Linked DNA regions of Homo sapiens: region 1 is linked to region 2. The links come from fine-mapping of genetic effects on gene expression. A gene starts in region 2. The other region holds a variant in brackets. All regions are shown on one strand. Distances are from middle to middle.

Region 1 (9,141 bases), 29 kb before region 2:
CTTGCTACTCCGCACAGCAAAAAAGAAAGATCCAAGGAATAGGGTCAGGCCAGGTGCAGATCTGGCTGCTGGCTCCTCAGGAACCTGGCAAGACATACCAGAGGCAGTGATGCCCCTGGAATTCCCAAGTGGTTTCCCAGTCTGGGGGACAAAGCACTTACTACCTCAAGAGGCAGCGGATCCACTTTGAGTGACGCCTGACCCAGTGCCTTTTATCATAAATTCTCTTTCCATGTTTACTTCCCCAGCTACGTTTAAAGCTTCCGTGGAGAAAAAACTCTGGGCTGAGGTCATTTTAAAAGTCTTGCAAAATCTTTTAAGTAGGATGTTCTTAATACATTCTTGCTGATTGAGATCTTATCAAGAGTGAAGAATGCAAGAAATAAAAGCATATGATCTTCCACTTTACTTCCAGGAGGGAGGAAGCTGGAATTCCTGCTTGTGGAGAAGTGGGTGGGAGTGTGCAGAGTGAGGATGTGAAGCTCACTCACCTAGCACTCTGGGTCAGGCCCCTCCTGAATATTCATTCTCTTTTTGTCTTTTTTTTTTTTTTTTTTTTTTTGAGACAGGGTCTCACTCTGTCACCCAGGCTGGAGTGCAGTGGCACGATCTCAGCTCACTGCATCCTCCACCTCCTGGGTTCAAACAATTCTCCTGTCTCAGCCTCCCAAGTAGCTGGGATTACAGGGGTCCACCACCACGCCCGGCTAATTTTTGTATTTTTAATAGAGATGGGGCTTCACCATGTTGGCCAGGCTGGTCTCGAACTCCTGGCCTCAAGTGATTCACCCGCCTCGGCCTCCAAAAGGGCTGGGATTACAGGCATGAGACACTGCGCCCGGCCTGAATATTCATTCTTAAATCCTCACAACCTTGTGAAATAGGTGTTATCACTATCTCCGTTTTACAGAGAGGGAAACTGAGGCACAGAGCAGTTAAGGAACATTCCCAAGGTGACACAGCTTGCAAGCCGTAGAGCTGGGATTTGAATCCAAGTCTGTGATTTTGGAGCCTGTGTGTTATTTCCCTGGTTGTTCAAGATTCCTTCTTCCCAGGAACCTAGGACTTAGCCAATCTCTCCTCCAGGGAAAACATGAGGACATTAAAACATTTTATTGTTCTTGAAAAAAAAAAAAACCTTAGGAAATTTTAATAGAATGACTAATGGACAACTGTCTTTCCCCCAAGTAGCTGAGACCTTAAGAAGCTGAGAGGAAGAAAAGATTATCCTAGCCGCCTCTGAGATGCTGAGCTCCTGGGAGTGGGGTCTAAGTCAGGGTCAAGTTTGTATCCTGGGTACTGAAAACAGAGCCTGGCACAGAGTCTGGAACCATCTGATGGATAATGAGTAAATTAGGGAGGGAGGAGCTCTGGAGGAGACAGGAAGATGAGGAACTGGGCTAGAAGTTTCTAGCCCAGAAAGGGGCAAGCAGGAGTGCTGACCACATGCAGGAGGGCAGCGGGGATCCTCCCTGCCACGCCCTGTCCATGCTTCAGCTCTCCATGTTTGCGTCACATCACCAGGAAGGGCCCAGGGATGCAGGAGCAAGGGTTGATGCTTGGCATTGAGAACACATCTCAGGGACTGGAGGCTTGGGTTGATTCAAGGGAGAGGCTGCAAAATCTCCTTCCTTAGACAAGAGGCTGGGTCAAATTATTGATCTCTGGGTTTCAGTATTACTCAGGGCCGCCCACTGAGTAATACCTAGTGCCCCCAAGGGGCACTGAGAGAAGTAAAAAGAAGCAGGAAGAAGGAAGAGGAGAAAACAAGGGAGGAAGCGGGAGTGGCCACGTGGCACCTGCAATCTCATCAGAGCTGCCCTTGGCCCCACCCGTCCTGTCTAGGAGAATTGGCACACACTCCCTGGAGTCTGGGCACTGACCATCAGCAATGATGCCAGCCACCGGGCCTCCACAGCTAGGGCGGGAGCAGGGCCCTGGTGCCCAATGATGCTTTTAGTTGGCAGATGGTGGGAGGTTCTGAGGGTCCGGAAGAGGGGCTGAGTCATCACTCAGGGGGCACTTGGTGGGGTGGGGGATAGTGACTTTTGCCCAACCCCCAGGTGTCAACTGGCTGCCTGTCAGACAATGCTTTTAGGTGACCAGAAGGCAAGGATTTCCCAGTCCCTGGAAACCAGATGCCCATCCTCCATGCAAACAAGTGAGGTGGAGTGTCCGTGCCAGTGCCCACACCTGCCCGGAGGCAGCTGCTCAGGTAGGCTGACCTGGGTTGTAATTGACAGTCCACCTTACTCCCTGTGTGGCCATGCAGGTCACCTAACCCTAGAGCCTCTGTGGCCCTCCCTGGGATTAGGATGACAGTCCCTCTCGCAGCAACACAGGAGAGCAGGTGCTTCCCTTCTCCCTTCCCACCACACCTGCTGCTGCTCTACCACCACCTGGGGGATCCTTCCTCTCCCTGCCCCATCACCCTCCTTATAGGGGCTGACATCTCCTATTTGACCCTCTGAGCCTTTAAAAACAGAGGCCAGTGGCTTCCCATCTCAGAATAAAATCCAGAACCCGTACCACAGCCCGCAAGACCCCGCACGAGTGAGCGGTTCTCAACCCTGGATACATGTTAGGGTCATCTGAATCAATCTGAGCTGGGGCCGGATGGCAGTGGATCTTAAGCACTTCCCAGGTGGATCTAATGGGCAGAGCCACTGCCCCACATGATACATCCCTCCTGCCATGCTGCCTGGCTCACTGTGCCCTGGCCTCACTGCCTCTCACTCATTCTCAAGTACGTTCACCTCAGGGCCTTTGTTGGAATACTCTGTCCCTGGCTGTCCACCTGGCCCCCTTACACAACATAGCTCACTTTTTTTTTTTTTTTTTTTTTTTTTGGTACAGGGTCTCACTCCATTGCCCAGGCTGGATGGTAGTGGCATGATCACTGCTCACTGCGGCTCGACCTGGGTTCAAGTGATCCTCCTACCTCAGCCTCCTGAGTAGCTGAGACTACAGGCATGAGCCGTCACACCCAGCTAATTTTTTTTTAAATAGAGACGGGGTCTCGCTATGTTGCCCAGGCTGATCTCAAACCCTTGGGCTCAAGCGATCTGCCTGCCTTGGCATCCCAAAGTGCCAGAATTACAGGTGTGAGCCACCACGCCCAGCCCATAGCTCATTTTTGATGGAGAGGTCCCTCCCTGACCAGGCAGTTCCCCTCCCTATGCCATCACATTCTTCCCCCTCAAACCTGCCCCTGCCTTATTTTGTCTCATCACACTTATGACCCCTTGATATGCCTGTTGGTTTGGATAACGTCTTATACCCCCCACTGGAACATAAGCTCTATGAGAGTAGGGCTTGGCCATCTTGTTCACGGCTGTATCCTCAGTGCCTAGCACAGCACCGGGTGCACAGTGGGTTCTTGAGAAAACCTGTTGTAATCAAGGCCATCTCTGCCGGCAGGTCTGAGCTTCTGGAAGGTAGGGGTGGAATGTCATGCATCTTGGTGTCCCTGGCATCTAGCACAGGGCCAGGCATGGAGGAGGCTGTGGCTAATTCATGGTGCTGATGATTTGCTCTGGAGATAGAGGGGCTCACTGGGGTGCTGTAGAGTGTCACGGCCAAAAGCAAGGGTCTGAGCAGTGATAGAGGTGGGGAGATGGCCCAAAGGAGGCTGGGATGCTTCAAGAAGGGAGGAAAGGAGCAGGCCTGCAACAGTGTCTGACACTTGGCTGACCCAGGGGGCCTAGCAGGGTAGAGGAGTGGTGGCCTATTAGACATCAGCCCTGACCACTGGACCCAGAGAGTAGGGGCAGGGTGAATGGGAGCCCACAGGAGGGTGGGGCAGGGGAGAGCGAGCTCCAGGTCCCACCGGGGTGCAAGATGATGTGGGCAGTGCCAAGCACAGGAGCTGATATCACCCCCACCCTGTAGAGTTCAGCAAATAGGACATTTTGTCTGAAGCTGCAGGGCTGCTACATGCCTCAAATGCCCCTGCCAAGTGGCCATGGTGGAGGGGACGGCATCTGCACCCTGGATATTCCTGACCTGTCCCAGAAGCAGGCAGGTGACAAGTGAGGCCTGAGGGGGAATGACTTGTAAAAGGCTGCTTTGGGCCGGGGATTCCAGCAGAATGGGGCAGGCTCCTGTTTTTGAGAGTCACCGGCATAAGGAAATGATTGCAGGGGTGCCCAGGAAACCGAGGGCTCCAGGACACTGGGTTGGGTTGTAGCTCAGCCTGGTCCCTGGGAGCCCAGTGGCAGCTCATGGCCAAAATCACTCAGCCCCTCTTCACACCCGAACCCAGCTTCCTTCTCCGGAGCCATCACTTTTTGAGCACCAATCATATCCAAGGCCTGGTGTAGGCCTGTCCAGCTGAGTTCCACACCCCCAGGCTGGCCGGCACTCCCAGCCCTGGCAGCTTTCTAGGGCAGAAGCTCAGCATGCCTGATGTCAGAAGCCCCTAGGTGTGTGCCTCCTCAGCAGGGCCACAGCTGCAGCAGCAAGAACGGCTGCCCCCAGCGACTCTGGGCCACCTCTGCCTGCCACAAGAGTTGCCTTGCAAAGTGCTCCTCAAGGCAGCATCTGCCCATATCCTTCCTTGTGTGTTTTCCTCCCTCCAGGGCCTCTGCACTATCTCCACCTCACCCTCCCCACGCCTCCCACTCCTTAAAGACCACAGGGCTGGGGGGCAGACACCTGGGATTCTAATTTGGTATGTGACCCCAGGCTACCCCTGGGAGGCTCCTGTCCTCATCTGCAAAGTGGGGAGAAAGGGGGGTTTCTATGAGGATTCAGTGAGACAATGCCTGGGCACAGGGCTGCCTGGCACCCAGCAGGGAACTTAATAAATGTCTGGTTTCCAATTCCCACCAATGCATTTCCCAGCCCTTCTCCTCCCCTCAAGCACTAATTGTCTGAGTTACGACCCTACTTTGGTGTCTGGCTGCCTACAAGCAAAGTGAGGAGGTCTCCTTCGGTAGAACTGGTGCTGAGCTGAGAATGGAGCCCTGGCCCGCCCCTTACTTCCAGAGCCTTGGGAGACATCATCAACCTCAGCATCAGCTTCCTCCTCTGGAAAGCAGCCACCCTCTTAAGTAACTGCAAACCATGCC[GGCA/A]AACTGCAAAGTGCTTAAGGCCAGGCATGAGGACAGGTCAGGAGGCAGGGTTTCGGGCCTGGCATTCTCAGAGTGGTCTCGGGAAGAACAAACCTGGACACCGAACTGGACAACAGCAGGACTCTGAGCACTTTGGGAGCTGTGTATGATGTGTTGCGGGGGTGGGTTGTGTCCAGATCAAAGGTGGGGAGGCGGTCTAGGCAGCAGCAGGAGGTGTATTCGAGGTCTGCAGCAATTCTTGCAGAGCCTGAATTACAGTGAGGCCCACACCCTCGTCCTGCTGCCCTGGCCTTGGCCATCTCCCATGTCAACCTCATCTTGATCTTGCCTACCTCCCTCCCCAGAAGCCAGGGGGCCATTTGGCATCAGGAACACAGGGATTAGCTGCACGGCCAGACCCCAGACCCCCGCCCAGGGGTCCCTCTTTGCTCTCCTGGCCAGCCCCACCCCACAGGCACCAACTTGGGCCAATGCCAGGCCACAGGTCAGACTCCCAGGCCTGGGACTCCTCTGCCCACCCACAACAACCACTGATGCTCCTCAGCAAGAGCCAACTTCTGGCTCTGAACGCAGCAGCACCCAGGATACAGCAAGGTGAATGCTAGGCACTCGTCCCACAGCCTGGGGTGTAGGGGAGGTCAGAGATACACACAAATCAAACTCTCTCCTCACTATATATATATATATATATATATATATATACACACACACACACACACACACACACACACACACATACACACAAGCACACCCCACCCACACTCATTAGGCCTGGAGGGGGGACTTCAGTTCTCCATCTTTGGCATCAATCTATCAAAGTCAGCTTTTCTGTACGAGACTGCTCGCTCCTTTCTGTACATGAATTAAATATATTATCTGTCTCTGCACTGAGTCACACGACGTTCACAGTACCGTGGGGAGGAGTGGAGGGTGGGGGCCTGAGGTGGGCAGGGCAGGGGGCCTGGGTAGAAAGGCGAGGCTGGCCTCCCCTTGGCCTGTGCCATTCAGGATCAGCCCAGTGTTGAGGAGACCTGGGGGATACAGAGGGGAGCCTTCTTCAGGGGCCCCGGCCACCCAGGCTTCCAGCCCCCGGAGGCAAGCCTCTCAGCATCAGAGCCTGCTCCTGTTCCACGTTCCTCTCCCTCAGATGGTGGCATCTACACCTCTCCCTGTCGTGGCCGCCCTCTGGGGTGGCAGGGGCTGGGGGAAGCTGGTATTGGGATCAGGTGGACAGAGCCACAAGGGCTGGGAAGGAAGGATGGGGAGGCTGTGCGAGCCTTCGGGAGCTGAGGTCAGCCTGGCACCAGTGTCAGGGTGACTCTGCATATCTGGGTGCCGTCCCCAGGACCCTGACCAGGCCTGGCTAATCAGAGCCCTGGGATGATAAGGTAAGCAGGAGCCACCTCGGGAAGGGGTGGACAGGCAGGAGCCGGTCACAGCTCCAAGGGCAGTGAGTACGGTACCACCTGCCAATTTAAGGCAACTCCATTCAGACTGATGAGCTGGGCGGGGGCTGGCTGAGGTGGCAGGCGTGCAACTGGCGGTCCCAGGCCACCTCTGGACACAGCTGGGCATCCAAGCATGCCAGCAAAGCGTATGCCGGCACTGCTCAGCCATGGTTCAAGCCAGAGGGTGTCGGGGAATGAGGGTAGGGTAGGGCTGATGGAAAGAGTGGGGACTACTATTCCTTCTGTTGCTGTGGGACACCTGCCAGGTGGGGTAGGCTTTGGCACACATGTGGGTACCTAGGATTCCAGGGTCCCAGAGAACATGCCATGTCTCTTCTTGCTCTCAGAGGGGAAAAAGATGAAACGTGTGTGGGCTCCAAGGGGCCAGAAAGGGGGACTACCAAACTGGCACTAGGCAGGTCCTGGGGGAGGAGGGTAGAGCCTGTATCCAGGGCAGAGTGCCCATCCTGGCGCCTTGATTCTGTCATCCGTGTGCATCCCACGCAGGTGCCCAAACACCAGGGTGGGAGAGGGTACGAGGACCGCCCCCCCCTCATGTCCTCTCAGGGAAGCAGCTTATGCCAGCCCCAACGTGGGTAAAGGAGGGGTTGGTATGCAGGTGAGGGCTACTGGGGAGGCACACGGGAAGCACAAAGAAGAAACAGCCGTGGCCAGAAGGGCTGCCAAGCGGTCTTCCAGGCTGGCTGTCAGCCCTCGTTCTTCAGTCCTCCGAGGGCCACACAGGCTCCATCCTACCCGAATTTGTGCTCCATGTGATCTCTTGTCCCTTGGCCACAGCAAGGTGGGCGTGGCTCAGAAGATGCTCTGCCGCCTGTTCTTCCCTCGTCCTGGAGAATGGAGAAGAGGTGGGGCTGCAGGGAGGAGGCTGGGCTGACGGGTACCCCAGGTCAGCAGGGACAGTCGCTGTCCCCCAGAGCTGCTCTGACAGAGCAAGCAAGGGCATGCAAACAGGAGCCGGTCTGACCTGGTGTCAAATCCCATCTCTGCTACTTACTAGCTGCATGAACTTGTGACTTAACCTCCCAGAGCCTCAGTTTCATTGACTATGAAATGGGGAATATTAATAGTACTAGCTTCAAGGGGTATTTTAAGGATTAAAGAAGACGATGCATGGAAAGCATTTGTCAATGTCCAAGGCCATTGACTGTTCTAGGAACAAAGTACCGTTCTCCCAGGATGGAATCTGATTAGAGAGCTCAGGGTTTGCAGAGAGAATGCACCAGAGACAGCATGCCTCTTTGCCAGGGCTACTGTCAAATGCAATGTCCTGTCTGGGGTGGAGGGTTGAGGAGGGAAGAGCTGGACGAGGAAGTCTAGGCAGGAGAAACCAACCCCTTCTCTGCTCCCCAAAGAGTCCAAAGGGAAGCCAGTGGTGGGGGGACCATGGGAGTCCCCACTGGGGAGGGGTCGCCTGCTCTGGCTTCCACTAACAAGGGGAGGGGTCCAGGAGAGCACAAGCCCCTACCTGGCTGCTGGAAGGCCAAGCCTCGGTAGCCTGGGTCCTTCTGGAGCTGGATCTCCTTCAGGGAGAAGATGGAGGCAGCTGGGGGAGAGAAGTGCATAGTCTGGAGAGGGCTGCGTGGAGCTGGCCTCCAGTAAGGACTGGCCCAGAAGGACCAACTGAGCCCTCGAGGCAGCGTCTCATTTCCACTGTTTGCCCCCTCAATTTGGAATGAGAACCCCAGCAGGGGAGGCAAGGTGCCCGGGGCTGCTCTGCTGGGGCTGGGGCCTCTGGCCTCTTTGTTCTGGTTCTTCTGCCCACACTCACCAACCCCTTTCCTTGGTTCTGGGTGGCCCTGCTCCCGGACCCCCAGTACTCACTGTCTTCAAGCTGGTGCACACGCTCTCCCAGAGACCGGAAGTAGGAGTGACTCAGGGCAGCCTCTGCTGACATGCGACTCTTGGATTCATACTGAAAGGCACAGGGTGGGGCTATTGGGCCCGGCTGGGGGGCTGCAAACCCTCTGGGCAGCAGGACTCCAGTGCTGGTTAGAGCACCAAGGTGGGTGAGGCTTGAGGCTAACAGGAGAAGCCCCAGGTCAGCCTCCAGCCCCTACCACAAACCCAACCTCAGGCCATCTCAAGACTCAGGGGAAGGCTCCTCGGTCTCCAGCCACCAGGAAAAACCAGAAATGAAACTTCAGGAGAGTGACCTTCTCTTGGGATAGAAATACAGATGCAAACCAACCATGATCAGATGGAGAACATCCGTAACAGGAAGCGTAGTGCCGATAACAACCCTTCATCGTGTGCCTTACAAGACAGGCACCACACTAAGTGTGTCCCGTCATCTCAATGTATCCTCACGGCCATCTTATAAAATAGGTATTAATCCCACTTTGCAGCTGAGGAAACTGAGGCATGGAGGAGCTCTGTAACTTGCCCAGAGCTACACAGCTAAGTAACGGGTTTGGGCTCGCAGTGCACAGACTCCAGAGGATGTGTATGGAGGCCACCCCTTGGCCTTGGGGGTGGAGAGTACAGGGGAGATGTTTCAAAGACGTGTAAGCACACGAGCCACAGAAGTTGGGGCGTAGGCCCGGCATGGGGCACAGGGACCTGGCTCTTTGGCTGCCTCTCCCTGGGCCCCGCCGGGA
Region 2 (9,141 bases):
TCACATGAGATAATAGTATTATCCTCCTATTTTATAAATGAGGAAACTGAAACCTGGGTGAGCAAATTACTTAACCTAAGGCAACCAGTTACTGAGTGGAAGAGGCAGAATCTGAACTGACCCCAAAGTCCATAAATTGCCTCCACCCATGGTGGACAGGAGACATACACTCAACATATAAATAATGATGAGTGCACCAGCCAGCCATTATTGGGTCATCTTGTCTATCCCGACTCCACCATTTCTAGGGAAGACTTTTATTTAATGGTGGGGGTAGGGAGGCTCAGAGGGTGGGACCATTATCAAGAGCTCCAGGAAAGAGGATCTCATCATAGTCCTTTCAAAAGTTCTGGCCCATGTCTCCCAGAGCAAGGTGTCCAGTCTCTTCAGGGTTACTCATGCTGTCAGGGAGCTTTGCTTCAAGACCCGTTTTTTGTTTTGTTTTGTTTTGTTTCTCGCCCAGGCTGGAGTGCAGTGGTGCGACCTCGGCTCACTGCAACCTCCACCTCCTGGGTTCAAGCGATCCTCCTACCTCAGCCTCCCGAGTAGCTGGGATTACAGGCACACGCCACCATGCCTAGCTAATTTTTGTATTTTTAGGAGAAACAGGGTTTCATCATGTTGGCCAGGCTGGTCTCAAACTCCTGGCCTCAAGTGATCCACCCGCCTTGGCCTTCCAAAGTGCTGGGATTACAGGCATGAGCCACCACACCCGGCCTAAGACCCTTTTCAATTTTTTTTTTGACAAGTTCTTGTTCTGTTGCCCAGGCTGGAGTGCAGTGATGCAATCATGGATCACTGCAGCCTCAACCTCCTAGGCTCAAGCGATCCTCCCCTCTCAGCCTCCCGAGTAGCTGGGACTACAGGCGCGTGCCACCACACCTGGCTAATTTTTGTATTTTTTTAGAGATGGGGTCTTGCCATGTTGCCCAGTCTGGTTTCGACCTCCTGGGCTCAAGCAATCCGCCCACCTCCCTTTTCAGTTTAAAACCAAACCTCACACTTGCCTCACTACCCCTCCTCCTCTGCAGATGTAGCTGTGGAGATTCTAGGAGCAGATGGGCTCTCTTTCAGACAGGAGGTCTGGCGGAGATGCGCCCACGGCTTTTCCTCTTCCAGACTTGCTGCTGAACCACTGGCCAGCTCCAGCCAGGCCCAGCTACCAGCTCTGTAGTGATCCTGGATCCCAGACCCTTGGCCTGAGCTGTTGTGAGCCCAGCCTGTGTGTGCATGTGCATGCAGCTGTGTGTGTGTAAGCAGCTGTGGGAGCCAGGACAAGATTAACCTTGGTCTGCTCCCACCCCCTGGATGTGGGAAAGTGCCCACTCAGCAGGGAATGCCTGGAGGGCAAAGGTGAAAAGTCCAGGGAAGGGGACGTAAGGGGTTATGGTGGGACACAGAGCCGAGGAAGAGAAATGTGACTTATTGCCAAAGGTGGGCTAATCAGGTGGGCCTGGAACCAGGCCAGCCACTCACCCTGAACAACAGAGCAGAACAGGGACTGCAATTAATTAAGTACCAGGGGAGGGTCCTCCTACCTCAGGGAAAGAAGGCGCTGCCAGAGGGCCCTCAGAGCAAGAGACTGCTGCCTCTCCAGCTCCCAGTGCCTGCCTCATTCATAACTGCCAGAAGGTAGGGCCCCCACAGCACAGATTCCTGGCCCCTCCTGGAAGATTTCCATCCAACCCATTCCCCTACCACCACCACCATTCTCTTACACAGAGCCCTCCTCCCTAACCTGGAAGAGCAGTAAAGATTCTGTCTAACTAAGGGCTTGGCCTGATGGGGCTGGGAAAATCTACCTTGGTCTCTAGACCAGCCCTGGTGCAATCACCAGGAAATTCCCTTTCCAAACAAGCACCACCAACCACTATAGCTACCAGTTATTTAGTCTCTGCTACATGCCAGGCACTGTGCATTATTTTTTTTTTTTTTTTTTTTTTTTTTTTTTGAGACGGAGTCTCGCTCTGTCGCCCAGGCTGGAGTACAGCGGTGCAATCTCGGCTCACTACAACCTCCGCCTCCCGGGTTCACGCCATTCTCCTGCCTCAGCCTCCCGAGTAGCTACAGGCACCTGCCACCACGCCTGACTAATTTTGTGCTTTTTTTTTTTTTTCAGTAGAGATGGGGTTTCACCATGTTAGCCAGGATGGTCTCGATCTCCTGACCTCGTGATCCGTCCACCTCGGCCTCCCAAAGTGCTGGGATTACAGGCGTGAGCCACCGCACCCAGCCTAAATCTTATAACAGCCCTCTATTATGATCCTCATTTTACAGATGAGGGAACGGATGCTGGGAGAAATTCACGAGTGTGCTAGTGAGGGGAAGGTCACATAGCTACTATATGCTGGAGCTGGATTCCACCAAGGCCAGAAGTTTGCCCTCCCCTTTAGTTCTCAAGCTCAGTTAGAGAAGAACAGAAGGAATCAGAGGACAGGTAGATGGAGATGCTGGACAAAAGTCCCAACAGGGTGATCCCAGAAAGTAGAGGCTTGGTTAGGGTAGGAACCGGGAAGAGTCAAGCCGGGCTCTGCCCTACAGTGTAGGACGCATTCCCGAGTGCGGGACGGCCCAAGTAGGCAGAGGACAGAGTCCGAGTCTGTAGAGGAAGCAAATGCACCCTGAAAGGCAGCTCCATGTCCTCTAGACCTGAGCGGGGGTTTGCAGGGCTGGCAACCTGATCCCACGAGATCTCAGACCAAGAACCTATTTGCTCCTCAGATCTGGTGCCCTCTCTCCTGTGCCCCATGGAGAAGCCTGGCTCTGCCTAGTGCAGGACAGACAGATGGGAGCCTCAATATTTGGAGCATCACCCCCATTCTTTCTTCTCCTGAGGACTGACGCAGACCAGAGAACTCCAGAGTGGGCCGGAACCTCCCCACAATGGGGCAGGGGTTAACAGCAGGGGCTTGGGGTCAGACGGAAGTGGGCTGGATCCCACCTCTGTGTGACCTTGGAAAAGTTGGTCTCTCAGAGACTCAGTTTCTTCACCTGTAAAATGGGGATGATAATAATACCTACTTCATAAAGTTGTGACGCACTGCTTGGCGCACAGTAGATATTCAACAAATGGTGGCCACTAAGGCTTGTCTACTCTGCCTCTGGCACCCCCGATAAGTTTGGGAAGAACTTCTTCTGGCACGCGTGGAGAGCTTCTTCCATTCTCCTGGCAGGGTATGGGGAGAGTCCTGGGGACCCAGTGGGGAGAGTCCTGGGAACCCAATGGTCAGGTACACCCCAGATTAAGGGTGGGGGAGGGGTCAGCCCCACAGCCTCCTCAGCTGCACAAGAGGTGGCTGGGAAAGGGTAACCCGAGATAGCAGCTTTGCTGTGGCAAGGTGACCCTCTCTCTGGAACGCCTTCAGGATGCAAACCCGGACCTGGAGCCAGTGTCGCCCTGTACTCCACCGACCCTCAGCACCCTCAGCACCGTTTTCCCAGGCCCCTCCCAAGGCCAGGCTAAAGGCAGGGGATCTCTGAGGACGTGCCAGTCCACCAGGCGCTCCAGGCATCCTCTCAGGCCCGTGTCCAGGAATGTGCTGCATGCCCATGCCCGGGTGGGGAATGCCACGCGAACATGCCGAAGCTCACTGGGTGCTGACACAGGAGGGGCAAGCCGGTGGTGTTAGTGAGTCACAGGGCCCAGGCTACAGCTGGGGAACTGCCGAGGGCTGGGCTAGGGGTGGGGAAGAAGGGGAGACAGTAGCAGATAGCGCGGAAGAGGTTCCAGGGCCTCTCACTCCCACAGTGTCAATCCTCCCACCCCGACTGCCGGGAGGTGCCCAGAGAGAATGAAGAGAGGCAGGGCTGGTGCCTAGGAGGGTGCTGACCCTGCAGCACAGAAAACCCCTCACTGTTTCTGCAGCCCAACTCCCACCCAGCACAAGGTCTGCAGACACCTTCAGGGAATCCCCGCCCCCCACAGGGCGAAAACAGAGGCCTCCAGTCCAGACCCGATTTTGGATTTCAGATTCCTGATGGTGTCCCTCAACTACAGCAGAATCCTCAAGGCACATCTCCTTAGCCCAACAGGTCACCGCCCACTCCCCCCGGCCCCACCCAGCCTCCTTTCCCTCTGCTGCATTAACCCTCTGTCGCCTGTTGATGAGGGGTGGAGGGGGGCACTGCCCCTTTGGTCTTCCGGGGTGGAAAGAGAGAAGCAGCAGCATTCCCCAGACCCCTGCCTCCCCCAGAACTGGGACCTGCAGGGCTTCACGTGTCCTTCCACGTTCTTCCCAGGGCTCCGGCCTCCCACCCCCTGCCTGCCGCTCTGGAAAGTTCACCAGAGCCCAGGAAGCCCTTCAAGGCAGCGATGTGGCCCCACACTCTCGGGTCCTTTGGTCCCTGGAGACTCCTGACCCTTGCCCTTCCCAGAATGAAGGGAGCTTAGAAAGCGCCTGGTTCCGGACTGGGTGGAAAACTTTGCTTTGTAGGGTTCAGACGGGAGCCCAGGGGCCAAAGTGATCCCAGATGGAGACTCCCTAAGGGGGCGCGGGGTCTGAGATTGCAAAATAACCCTCCCTCTCAAGCACCTGGAACTTACGAGTGGCCTTTCGAGGGCACCCCCCACCCCTCAACACACAACACAGTATCACACAGATCACGCCTCGTGATCTCTGCTCTCCCCTCGCCGCTCCGGTATTTCCCTCCAACCTCTCGCCTCAGGGCAAAAGCAAAACTGCGCCTTTAAGAGCCGTTCCGCTTACCTTTGCTCCTTATACCCGGCGCCGCGGTGCCCGCTCCTCCGACCTCCCCCTTCCTCCCAGGCGCACCGCCCGCGGGACTCACAGCGCGTGTCCTGGGGGCCGCGGTGCGCCCGCTCCCTCCCGGGCACGGGGCAGCTTCCCCTGCTCCGGAAAGGTGAGCAGTTCCCCAGAGAAGCTGCAACCTGAGCTGGCCGAGGAGGAGGTAGAAGGGGAGGGGAAGGGAGGGAGTGGAGGAAGGTGGGGAAGAGGAGGGAGGAGGAGGAGGAGGAGGAGGAGGAAGGAAAATGCCCGGCCCCCGCCAGAGTTTTTCACATGTACAAGTTGACTCCGCCCCCGGCCCTCCCGCCCTGCCCACAGCCGCTACCAATCCCCAGGGCTCCCTCTGCCCGGGTGCCCACCCCTTTCTCCCACTCTGGGAACCAGGGTCCAAGTGCCTCTTCCTGTTTCGTTTCTAAAACCGGCCCTGAGAGCCTTGGCTAGGGGATGAGGCCTTCTGGACTGGATCACCCCAGGACACCAAGGCGCCAGGGGTACACTGAGAGTGCCTGCCTGTCTCTAAAAGCGGTGCTCCTACCTCTCCTAGGTACCTCCCTGTACCTGGCGCCCTAGGAACGAATGTGCATGGACAGATTTTGGTGGTCATTTTCTTGACAATAGTAGCCCTCGGGCTCCCCTTCTACCCTATCCAGTGGGACTTGTCACTTACCTTTCCGGACAAAGTTCCCACCTCTCCAGGACCTGAATGAAGCCCTTGTTACCAGCCATCATTCACATTTCCCTCCCCGAAGGATAATTCAACTTGTCCTTTTGGAATTAAACTCCACAGGATATTTGAGAATCATCCAAGAAGGGTTACAGAATGGCTAGTTCAGCTAGTGGCACTCTCATTTTACAGAAGGGGAAACTGAGGCCCAGCAAAGCAATTGAACTGGCCTAAAGTGCCACAAGAGTTCATGGCGAGCCATGATTAGAACTCAGGCCAATGGCCATTGCACCCACATCATCTGACTTCAAGGATCAAAAAAAAAAACAAAACAAAAATCTGGGGATGGGGGTGAAGGGCACAGTGCCCCACCGCCAGGCCCCTCTCATCTCTGCTTCCTCCTGAGGGCTGTGAGGAGAGGAGGTGTGCCTTGGCTCTATGGCACCTCATCAAGGCAGTCTGTGTCCCCTGCCCTACCAGAGGGCTTGGCTGCTGCAGTCTGGGGTCTCCCACAGGGAAAGTCTCCTTAGGAGGGGGTGCTCCACAGTGTACATGTGCTTCTACCTGAACCCTTTCCCTGGGGACTGTGAGTTGTTGAGAATAGAACAGTTTCCTTCTGGAAGACATGGGCCTGAGGTCCCACTGTCAGCTGGAGACAGGAGAATGAAGGAAGACACTGGGCCCATGCATGAAAGTGACCTGTGGGTAGTTGACATCTCACAGAGGGCCTCCCAACTCTTTTTTTTTTTTTTACCTCGCTTTCTCTGCCAAGGCATGCAGATTTCCTGGGCACAGCACTTCCTAAAAATGAAACTGCCAAGTGTTGTCGGGGTGCATGGATCCAGAGCCTTTAGGTGTGCAGCAACCTCCTGGCTCTGTAGTCCAGTGGATGGTGAGAAGCCTGGGGAGCAGGAGGCCATAAAGAGGTTTGGAAGGGGCAGGGAGGGAAAGGGAGAAGGACTATGGCCAAGGAACTGTTTACTGGCGGATTAGAGAGAGTGGGGCCAAAGGGTAGAATTTCAAGGAACTAGGGGGGTGAAGTCAAGAGGTCTCCACAAACACTTTCTCAACATCTCTTATGTGCCAAATGATAGCCAGGGCTCTGGGCACATAAGATGAGTATAACCCAGTCCCTGCCTTCAAGAAGCTCTTGGTGTAATGCGGCAGGGAAGCAAACAGTTAGGATGCTATAGGAGGAGGCTTAGTGTTACGGATGCCTGGGAGGAGCTATTCTGCTTGAGGTGAGGGTTACAGGATGAGGGGACAAGAGAGAGGAGGAAGGATTTTCCCTGTTTTTTCCAGGAGGGGTAATCCCTTGTGCAGAGTGCAGGGGTGACAGAATATGGACCCACAGTTCCATGAGGTCAGAACTTAAAGTCTGGGGTGGAGGTGACACTGTAGAGGCAGGCAGGTGCTGGGTCCTGAAGACCCCCAACGTGGAGGCTGATCCTAGTGGAAAATGAGAATGAGCTTAGACCACACAGCGGCAGCAGGGAGGAGAGGAGGGAACTGATTTGAGAGATAGGTAGGAGACAGGGTCATGGAGCCTTGTGACTATTGGATTCTAGAAGATAAGGGAGCCAACAGTGTCAAGATTAGAAGCACTGATGTGATAGGCTGAGTGGGACCTTGGAGCTTCTTAAGTGAGCCTTGATTCCCAGCACCTCCTTAGATTGCTCTGTGAACTTGGGCAAGCGAACTAAGCTTTCTGAGGCCATCTGTAGAACAAAGTTGCTAAAATCAATCTTGTATGGTTGTTGTACATATTAGGGTAATGTATGCTAAGGGCCTGGCATAGGACTTGGCTCATAATGGAGAACTCAATAGATAGTAAATATAATTACCATCATTCATGCATTCAACAAACATTTATTGAACACCTGCTATGTGACAAGGACTATACTGGATCCTTGCATTGGATAGATGATTTTAAGTCTCAGTTCCTATTCTCATGTAGTTCACTGTTCAGGTGGAGAAAGATATGCAGAGGCAGTCACCTACCAAGGCAATATGGGCTGAGCAGAGGAAGAAGCCCTTAACTCTGCCCAAGAGAATTTGGGACAGCTCCACAGAGGAGAGATGACAGCTGAAATGATGTAGGGCCAGCCACCTGCTCAGAGCCTGTCACATCACCCCCTGCCCCACCACCACCACATGGGATTGCTTCAGAATCTCTGAAAGCTTCAGTTTTGAAGCATCGTCTTGGTTCTCAGGGTTGAAGGAAGAGGATGAACTGCAGGTGGGCATCTATATGGAGCCCAGAGAATGGCACAACAAGCTTTGGCCACCCCAGGAAAGGGCAAGTGCAGATGGGAGGTGGGAGGGGGGAACCAGATAAGAGTGACCCTGGGCAGGGCTTACTAGCTGGATAGGGAGTCCATGATACCCAGTCATACACATCAGTGGCCTGTGTATGTGTGCTCTTTGGGTCAGCCTAATTTTTCTGCTTCTCATCTGTACCATTTCAAAAATTCCCTCTGAACCCCTTGGTGTCCCCTGCCCTCCGATGCCAACTTTCTTTCTGTGCATCTTGCAATAAGCCAAACACAGTAGAAGCAGCACTACCTAGGACTTCCACTAAGGAGGGGCTCCTTCCCTGCTGCCTTACCAAGCAATACTTTGAGCTTTAAAGCCATGTAAACTGTGTGACCTTGGGCAGTTACTGACATATCTGACTTCCTTTCCTGTCCATAACATGGAGATGGTAATAGTCCCTCTCTCATGGGGCTGTTGTGAGGTTTCAATAGGATGTAAACTTGGCACCCAATCAATGCTGTTTCTCTTTTCTGCAGCCCATTAACTCCCTCCTTGCAGAGGGACAGACAACAGACCCTCAGCTGGGGGTTTCCCTGGCACCCCAGCCCCTGGGGCCCATCCCCTGTGGGTCCTGCAGCCCCCTTCCCCTCTGCTAGTCTAATGGATCTGTGGCATCCCCGGGAGGCCCTGGTCACCCTAGCCATGTAGCAGTGTAATGCTGGCAGGCCTGAGCAGCATGACAATGGTGGCCCCAGCAGCAGCTCAGCCCACTGCCCACTCTGCTCCTGTCTCCTCCTCGCTGCCAGTGACATGCCACTGCTCTGCAGATAGGACAGGCGTCCCTGGGTGCCTGAGGGCTGAGCAGGGAAGCTGGAAACAGCTCTCCCTCGCAGACTGTGTGGGCAGTGCATTTGAATAGCATCTGAAAAACCAAAGTTCAAGCCCGCCCCACTTTCCCCTGGGAGGCACAGCATCCAGACAGGGAGAGTTCAGCCAACAGAGAATCTCTTTTCTGCACATTGTCAGGGGCTCCCTTCCCCTCTGGCCCTATATCCGAGCAGGCACAGTCTCTGAAAGCACTGCAGGGACATTTGGGAGGCCGGAGACTTGACTCCGCCCCTAAGGTGCAGAAATCACTTTGTTTCTCTGGGCCTCTGTTTTCCTCTATAGCAAAAGGGGAATAGTGTGAATACCTATCTTTCAGGATGGGAGAACTAAATGCAAAGGTGACTGTGAAAGTGCTTTGCACACTGTAGAACGACCTGCATGTGTATGAGATCATTAGTGTTTGTCCAGAGGGCCCTTTTTAGGGTTCCAGGAATCAAGTAAAGACATGAGAAATGAGAAGCTAAGTGAGAACAGAGAAACTCACCTCAACAGCCTGCCCTTGGCAGGCAGGAGGGAGATTGGCAGCAGAGACCTGAAGATGGACTGACCCATTATGGCCTAGCTAGTTAGAGGTCTGTGAGTCATTGG

Which allele goes with the higher level. Alleles are on the strand shown, and positions count from the first base shown. SD is a standard deviation of normalised expression in the study named.
With allele A in place of GGCA in region 1, the expression in nucleus accumbens of the gene that starts at base 4,916 in region 2 is lower (small effect, 0.22 SD a copy in GTEx).

What was found. PIP is the estimated chance that this variant, and not a neighbour inherited with it, causes the effect.
Region 1: its variant is fine-mapped to the expression of CDK18 in nucleus accumbens (GTEx, PIP above 0.99).

The regions. Positions count from the first base shown.
Region 1 is chr1:205,529,574-205,538,714 of GRCh38, reverse strand. CDK18 (cyclin dependent kinase 18) reads right to left here. Exons shown (of 16, transcript NM_212502.3): 14 at 8,366-8,456; 15 at 8,010-8,087; 16 at 5,925-7,371. The coding sequence ends at 7,337. Among named protein-coding and RNA genes, the nearest start is that of CDK18, 29 kb to the right of the region's middle. RefSeq lists an enhancer at 1,777-2,278. The variant GGCA/A (reference allele first, on the strand shown) is at 5,073.
Region 2 is chr1:205,500,444-205,509,584 of GRCh38, reverse strand. It overlaps CDK18 (cyclin dependent kinase 18), which reads right to left and starts at 4,916. Exons shown (of 16, transcript NM_212502.3): 1 at 4,789-4,916. RefSeq lists an enhancer at 2,339-2,992.